Regions from separate parts of the Homo sapiens genome. Here region 1 is linked to region 2. The links come from fine-mapping of genetic effects on gene expression. A gene starts in region 2. The other region holds a variant in brackets. All regions are shown on one strand. Distances are from middle to middle.

Region 1 (2,919 bases), 700 kb before region 2:
CAACCAGAGTTATCCTGTTAAAGGGGCAAAAGGAAGTGTGGAGTTATGGGGCTGCATAGGTGGGCAGAGGACAGGTTACAAAATGGTTTATCATGCCACACTCAAAAATTTAGGGCTTTATCTCAAGATGATTAGAAGAAATTGAAGCATTTTCAAAAGGAGGATCAAAATCAGACATATTTAACACACATGAGTCTAGAAATTATTTGGAGAATTTTGAAAAGAGGAACATCACTTATAAGGCTGTTGGAAAAAGCAAACTATAAAATAAGAAGCCTGATGAAGAAAAGATGTTTGATGGAAAAGTAATTTGGGAATTATAATTGACAGAATTTCCTGGGGATTCGTTGTAGGGGATGACAAGGTAGTAGATAGAGTCGGGTATGATTCAAGAGAATGGAGGTGTCACCAACTGAGAGAGGGAAGAAGAGGAGCATGTTTATTGAAGGCTCTGAAAAATGAGAAATTCAATTTTGAACGTGATGCTCCTGAAGTGGCATAAGATAGCCAAGGGGGTATTTTGTAGGTGGTTATATATAAACACCAAGTTCTAGGCTGAATTTCAATCATCAACATCTATGTGATGGTGAAACCATGGATACAGGTGAAATCACCCAGATGATGAAGAGTTACAGAAATAGACTTCTGGGGGAACACCACCTTTTAACAGACCAGCAAAGGATGAAAAGGTCGTGAAGGAGACTGAATGTGTCCAGAGAGATAAAGGAAATCGAGAGAGAATGTGAATTGAATGCTAAGAAAAGAAAAGTTTCAAAATGTGAAGAGGGGTCAAGGTTAAATGTTGCAGATCAGTTGAATGTTGCAATGCTAAAGGTTTTAAAGAGAACTTTAAAAAGTATATTATTTTTGGCTGCAAATTCAGGGAGAGCTGTTTCAATGGCATGTAGGGAAGGACCAAAGTTGAAGTGGTTTGAATAACAAATGGGAAATACATGTATGATAGTGCAATTATTCGCTGTGTATCATGTCTTATATGCTCAATTAAACTACAAGTTTCTCAAAGGCAGTTTTTACATGTCTTTTCTATCCTATTTATGTTCCATTTTATATATGCATATATATTTACTTGTGTGTATAGGTATATATTTATTGTGTGCATAGACATGTACATATTGTAT[A/G]CATATATTATTTACATGTATATATATGTATTAACAAATGTGTATATTGTATTTATAATATACACAACAATGGTTGCAAAACCACCAATGACTGAGATTGATCTGACAAATATACAAATGAAGTTCCCTGGGCCTCCAAGCCTACTTTGGCAGCAGTGACATTTTTAATCACTGTTCTTCCTTTTTCCCCCTTATCTCCCAAGAAATATCCAGCCTGTTTTTCCCATAGTCTTGTGTGCACCAAGTGTGTAGCCTGCTGTTTCTCTTTGCTCCTAAACATTTATTTTCCTCCTTTGTATCTACATTTTCTTTCCTCCTCAGCTCAGATTATGAGCAGCCTGCCTTCAACAGCTGGCATTTATAGAGCTATAAGTTTCCATAACTTCTACAGGAGCTCTGCATGCATGCGCATGCCAAATGAAGCCCTCAAGCTATTCTGCAAATAATTTCTACAGTAAATTTTACTTGTAATGACCTGAAGTTGAGTTTGTATCCTTTAGGAAAAGCTATATCTTCTCACAGAGCCCACAAGTTCTCTCTTTGCAATGTTAAACCCAAATTTTACTGGTATAATTAGTATACATATGAAATTTATGGCACAAAAAATATAACTGATTAAAACAAATGGAATCATTTTAAGCAGCACTAAAGCACAAACATACTTTTGTTTAGAAAACCTCTTATTTTTCTTATGGTGTCTTTGGGCTTAGGGTTCCCTATAACTCCAATATGGTGTGTTTGGAGCTTCTATTATCTGTTTTGGCATTTCACACATGGAACACCTGCATGAGATAGGTTCCTTGACTCCACAAACAGCTTGCAGGATAAGAATTTATTTTTGAATGAGTCTTATTCATGCTGTTTAAATGAGAGGAGAAGTGCCACTAATAGTTTCTTTCAGTTTTGTAACTGGAATACTTTATAGTTTCATCTAACTTTTATTTCCCCCCATCTGCTTAAGTGACTTCATTCCTCTCAAGTTGAAAATGTCAAGGCTATTTACTAATACTATGTTAGAAGGTCTTGGTGCATTTTTTCCACCACCACCTTTTCCCCTGCCAACACTCTGCTTTTATTCTCACAGGTCTTTTATAAACCTTTCCTTTCCCACTGATATTCTCCAGTCTAAAACAGCTCCAAAAAAAAAAAAAAAAAAAAAAAAAAACAGTAACAAAGGAGGGGCTGGGCGCGGTGGCTTAGGGCCTGTAATCCCAGCACTTTGGGAGGCCGAGGCGGGTGGATCACCTGAGGTCCGGAGTTCGAGACCCACTTGACCAACATGGAGAAACCCCGTCTCTACTAAAAATACAAAATTAGCCGGGGGGTGGTGGCACATGCTTCTAATCCCAGCTACTCTGGAGGCTGAGACAGGAGAATGGCTTGAACCTGGGAGGCAAGAGGTTGCTGTGAGACGAGATTGCTCCATTGCACTCCAGCCTGGGCAACAAGAGCGAAACCCCATCTCAGAAAAAAAAAAAAAGTAACAAAGGAAGAATAAGAGTTGGAAGAATAAGGGGTAAAGTGAAGAGTGGAGAAGCAACTATTTTGCAAGGAGATATAATTTAAATTGCCTCAGTCACTGTTGTTGTATAAACCATTGAATCAATAACACTCCTCAAAGTCTAAACTTTCAAAATCTCTCCCCACTGGTCTCCTACGGTACTACCAATCACCTTTGCTCCTTTCTGTATATCGTACATTCTTCTTTTTATAAATCACAGGCTCCATGGTATCTTTTGTTCTTAAAAAAAGCAAGAAACTAAAAATATTAAGTCAAGTT
Region 2 (2,919 bases):
ACAAATATTAGATGCCAATATACAATGTTTGTGCTTCATTCTATATAAAAATGTGATGAGTCTTGTCTCATTTAACATGTAAACCGGAGGTTAACTTCTCATAAACTCTGGAAACGCTTAAAGAAAAAAAGCAAAAATTATTTTAAAGCCAGAAATGTTTTCCTTAAGAGCTGCCCATCTAAATGTGCTCCAAATTTTCAAATGGAGCCGCAACACTGGAATAACGAGTTTTGAAACACAATCCGGTAACACATTAACATGTCAAACCAGTTGACTGTACTTAAAACACCTATCTAGTTGCATTTGAAAGTCGTTTTGGTCTCTGAAAGCTCCAAAAAAAAAAAAAAAAAGCTAGGAAGTGACTAGTAGGTGCAGTATAACAAAGCTGAGGAAGATCTTCCTTTCATGAGACCTGACTTGACACAAACTTGGGTATTCCTGGGGTCAGTCTTTTCCTTCCTGAGACTTTTGGAGGCCAAGTCCAGAACCGACCCACCCCTGACCCCATCCAAGGGTACCATGATTATCCCTTAGCAGAACATGGAATATTTTCGGAGTGTCGTAAGTGTATGGATAGTTTTACGGTACAACGTCTACATAGTGGGAGAGGGCAACAGAGGGTTAGAGGTTAGAACTGAAAGGTAAAAAAATGCAAGAAATTTAGGAAATCCAAGAGACAGACTGCCAATTAAAGTCACTAAAATGGGTCTCCAATTACACCGTAAAGCAGGGCCCTGGGAGAAGAGGAAAGAGTTTTTGTTATTTCCAAAATTTATAGGTGGGTGATTGCATTAGCAGCGGAGCAGCCGAGGTGGGGCCCTGACCAGGCACACGGATGAATGAAGGGATGTCCGCGACCTGATCTGAGAAACAAGAGTAGAAGCCTCGCGATATTTCATTCCCACCTCGCTCGCAACTAAGCCCAACCTTCTGGCAGTCCAAAGCCCTACGCGCTGACAGAAATAACCTCCTTAGCAGAAATGCACTGGTCTCGTTCCCTGCAGGGCATCAGAGCCCAGAGGGTGAGTGATCCGGGCAGGCTGCCCTAGGCTCCTTTCCCGCGTCCCAAACTACATCCCCTGCCTCGCCTCGGCCCCAAACGTCCTCCCTTCCACACACACCCTCCCTGGGCCCCGCTCCGGGGTGTGGAGAGCACTGCCGCCTCCTTATTACCGACCTCAGAGCTAAACTCATTATCTCTTCGCACAGAGACGTTCCTCTCAAGAACGATTTTAACCCCCTACCCAAGGCAGCAAGACGCCCACAGCCGTTCAACAGACACGAACGACCTCAGCGGCCTCAGGGACCTCCCACAACATAGACACTTTTGAGCTGGATTGGTTGAAATGTCGCTATGGTTCTGCCTATTAGGGGGCGGAAGCTTTACCAGTTCTATTTTCATTGGGTAGGTTTTACGTCAATCAAGGAAAAAAAAATTTTTTTTCTGTGCCCCGCCCACCTCCTAACGCCCCCCCGCCCCCCCAATCTAGGGCCGCTCTCGCCCTTCGGATTGGCTCGATGCGTTTTTCCCCGAATCCTTTGCGGGTCCGGCCTCCGATCCCTGTGTGGCTGTTTGGCGGGTGGGCGCTGTGTTCCTCTCTCGTAAAGCCGTGCGGTCTGTGGGCCGCCATTCAGAAACTGGATGGACAGCTTCGGCGGTGGGAAGGGAAGGGACATGCTGCAGGCCACCCTCCGGCTAGAAGGAGGGAGTACTTGAGGAACAAGGTCTGCGAAAATTGGCTGTGCTCTGTTCTAAAACTTGGAATGGCCTCAGTACCTGGGGAATGTGTTTAAAATGCAGACTTAAATGTCCGTTTCTCCATTCTAATTTCAGTAGGTATGAATCTGCGTTTTTACTCCTCACAAGCCTTCCAAGTGATTCTGAGGCAGGTGCTGTGGCTGTACTTGGATTATCACAGGGTTAGATTATCAGGCTATTTATGATTTAGCTGTATCTAAACCACCTTTCCCTCTCTTTCCTCCTTTGAACTGTTTGAAACGGATTTGTTCCCTTCTGTCTCTTATTTTTCAGTGCTGTAAGCTGTTAACACACATGAGACTGTCTTCACTACCAAACCAAGTCTCCTAAAGCTCACTTGAATGTCTGCTTATTCGTGTCTCTTACTAGGTTCAATTTCTTGGAGGCCGTGATTATATCTATTTAACGCTTTTCCTTGTACCTAATAAAATGTCTGGTGCGTAGGTGCTCGGTAAATTGAGTGGAATCTTTTGAAAATCCACAAAATACTGAGCTAAACAGCAAATCTCATAAACGTGAATAAAATAGCCTGAGGATGGGAGTTGAAGGCGGAGAATATATAAACATTATATGTTTAAGGGATGTATATAAAATTTTAGAGAAGGGAGAGAACACAAGATATGCTTCTTAAAGGAGGTGACATAAACGTTAGACCTAGAAGGATGGGCTAAATTTGCACAAGGAAAGATAGTATGATAGAATAAGCTAAAAATTAGCTAAGGGATAGCACCCCTAAAAAACAAAAGTGGAACTTTTATTTTGTTCGTATTTTAAATTTTAAAGTACCTTTATAAATCACCTTTGAGTCTAAAAGGAAAGAGAAATTGTAGTTACTAGAACATAATGATATTGAAAAAAACTATATGTTAAAATTTTAAGATACAGACCAAGTTATAGGAGAACATTATTTTAAATAAGAAAGAATAAAAATAGGCCAAGCATTTATTTGAAGATGTTAGAAACGAAGAACAAATTGTATAATTGAAATTAGGAAGAGGAAATTAGTAAAGATAAAGTTTGAGAACAGTGTTTTAAAAGGAAATTGGTAAAATTGATAAAGTACTCATAATCTAGTATAAAGCTGGTTTTTGGCAATACCAGTGAAATTCAAAGACTTATAGGAAGTGTAACAAGAAAAGGAATAGTGCCACTAGTAAGGT

Direction of the effects. Alleles are on the strand shown, and positions count from the first base shown. SD is a standard deviation of normalised expression in the study named.
With allele A in place of G in region 1, the expression in thyroid of the gene that starts at base 1,289 in region 2 is lower (small effect, 0.20 SD a copy in GTEx).

The links. PIP is the estimated chance that this variant, and not a neighbour inherited with it, causes the effect.
Region 1: its variant is fine-mapped to the expression of CETN3 in thyroid (GTEx, PIP 0.95).

The regions. Positions count from the first base shown.
Region 1 is chr5:89,708,678-89,711,596 of GRCh38, forward strand. All of the region lies in intron 1 of LINC02161 (long intergenic non-protein coding RNA 2161), which reads left to right. Among named protein-coding and RNA genes, the nearest start is that of LINC02161, 130 kb to the left of the region's middle. The variant A/G (reference allele first, on the strand shown) is at 1,140.
Region 2 is chr5:90,408,468-90,411,386 of GRCh38, forward strand. It overlaps CETN3 (centrin 3), which reads right to left and starts at 1,289. Exons shown (of 5, transcript NM_004365.4): 1 at 1,178-1,289. The coding sequence starts at 1,194. It overlaps LOC731157 (a long non-coding RNA gene), which reads left to right and starts at 1,533. Exons shown (of 2, transcript NR_105024.1): 1 at 1,533-1,837; 2 at 2,033-2,202. RefSeq lists an enhancer at 1,059-1,258.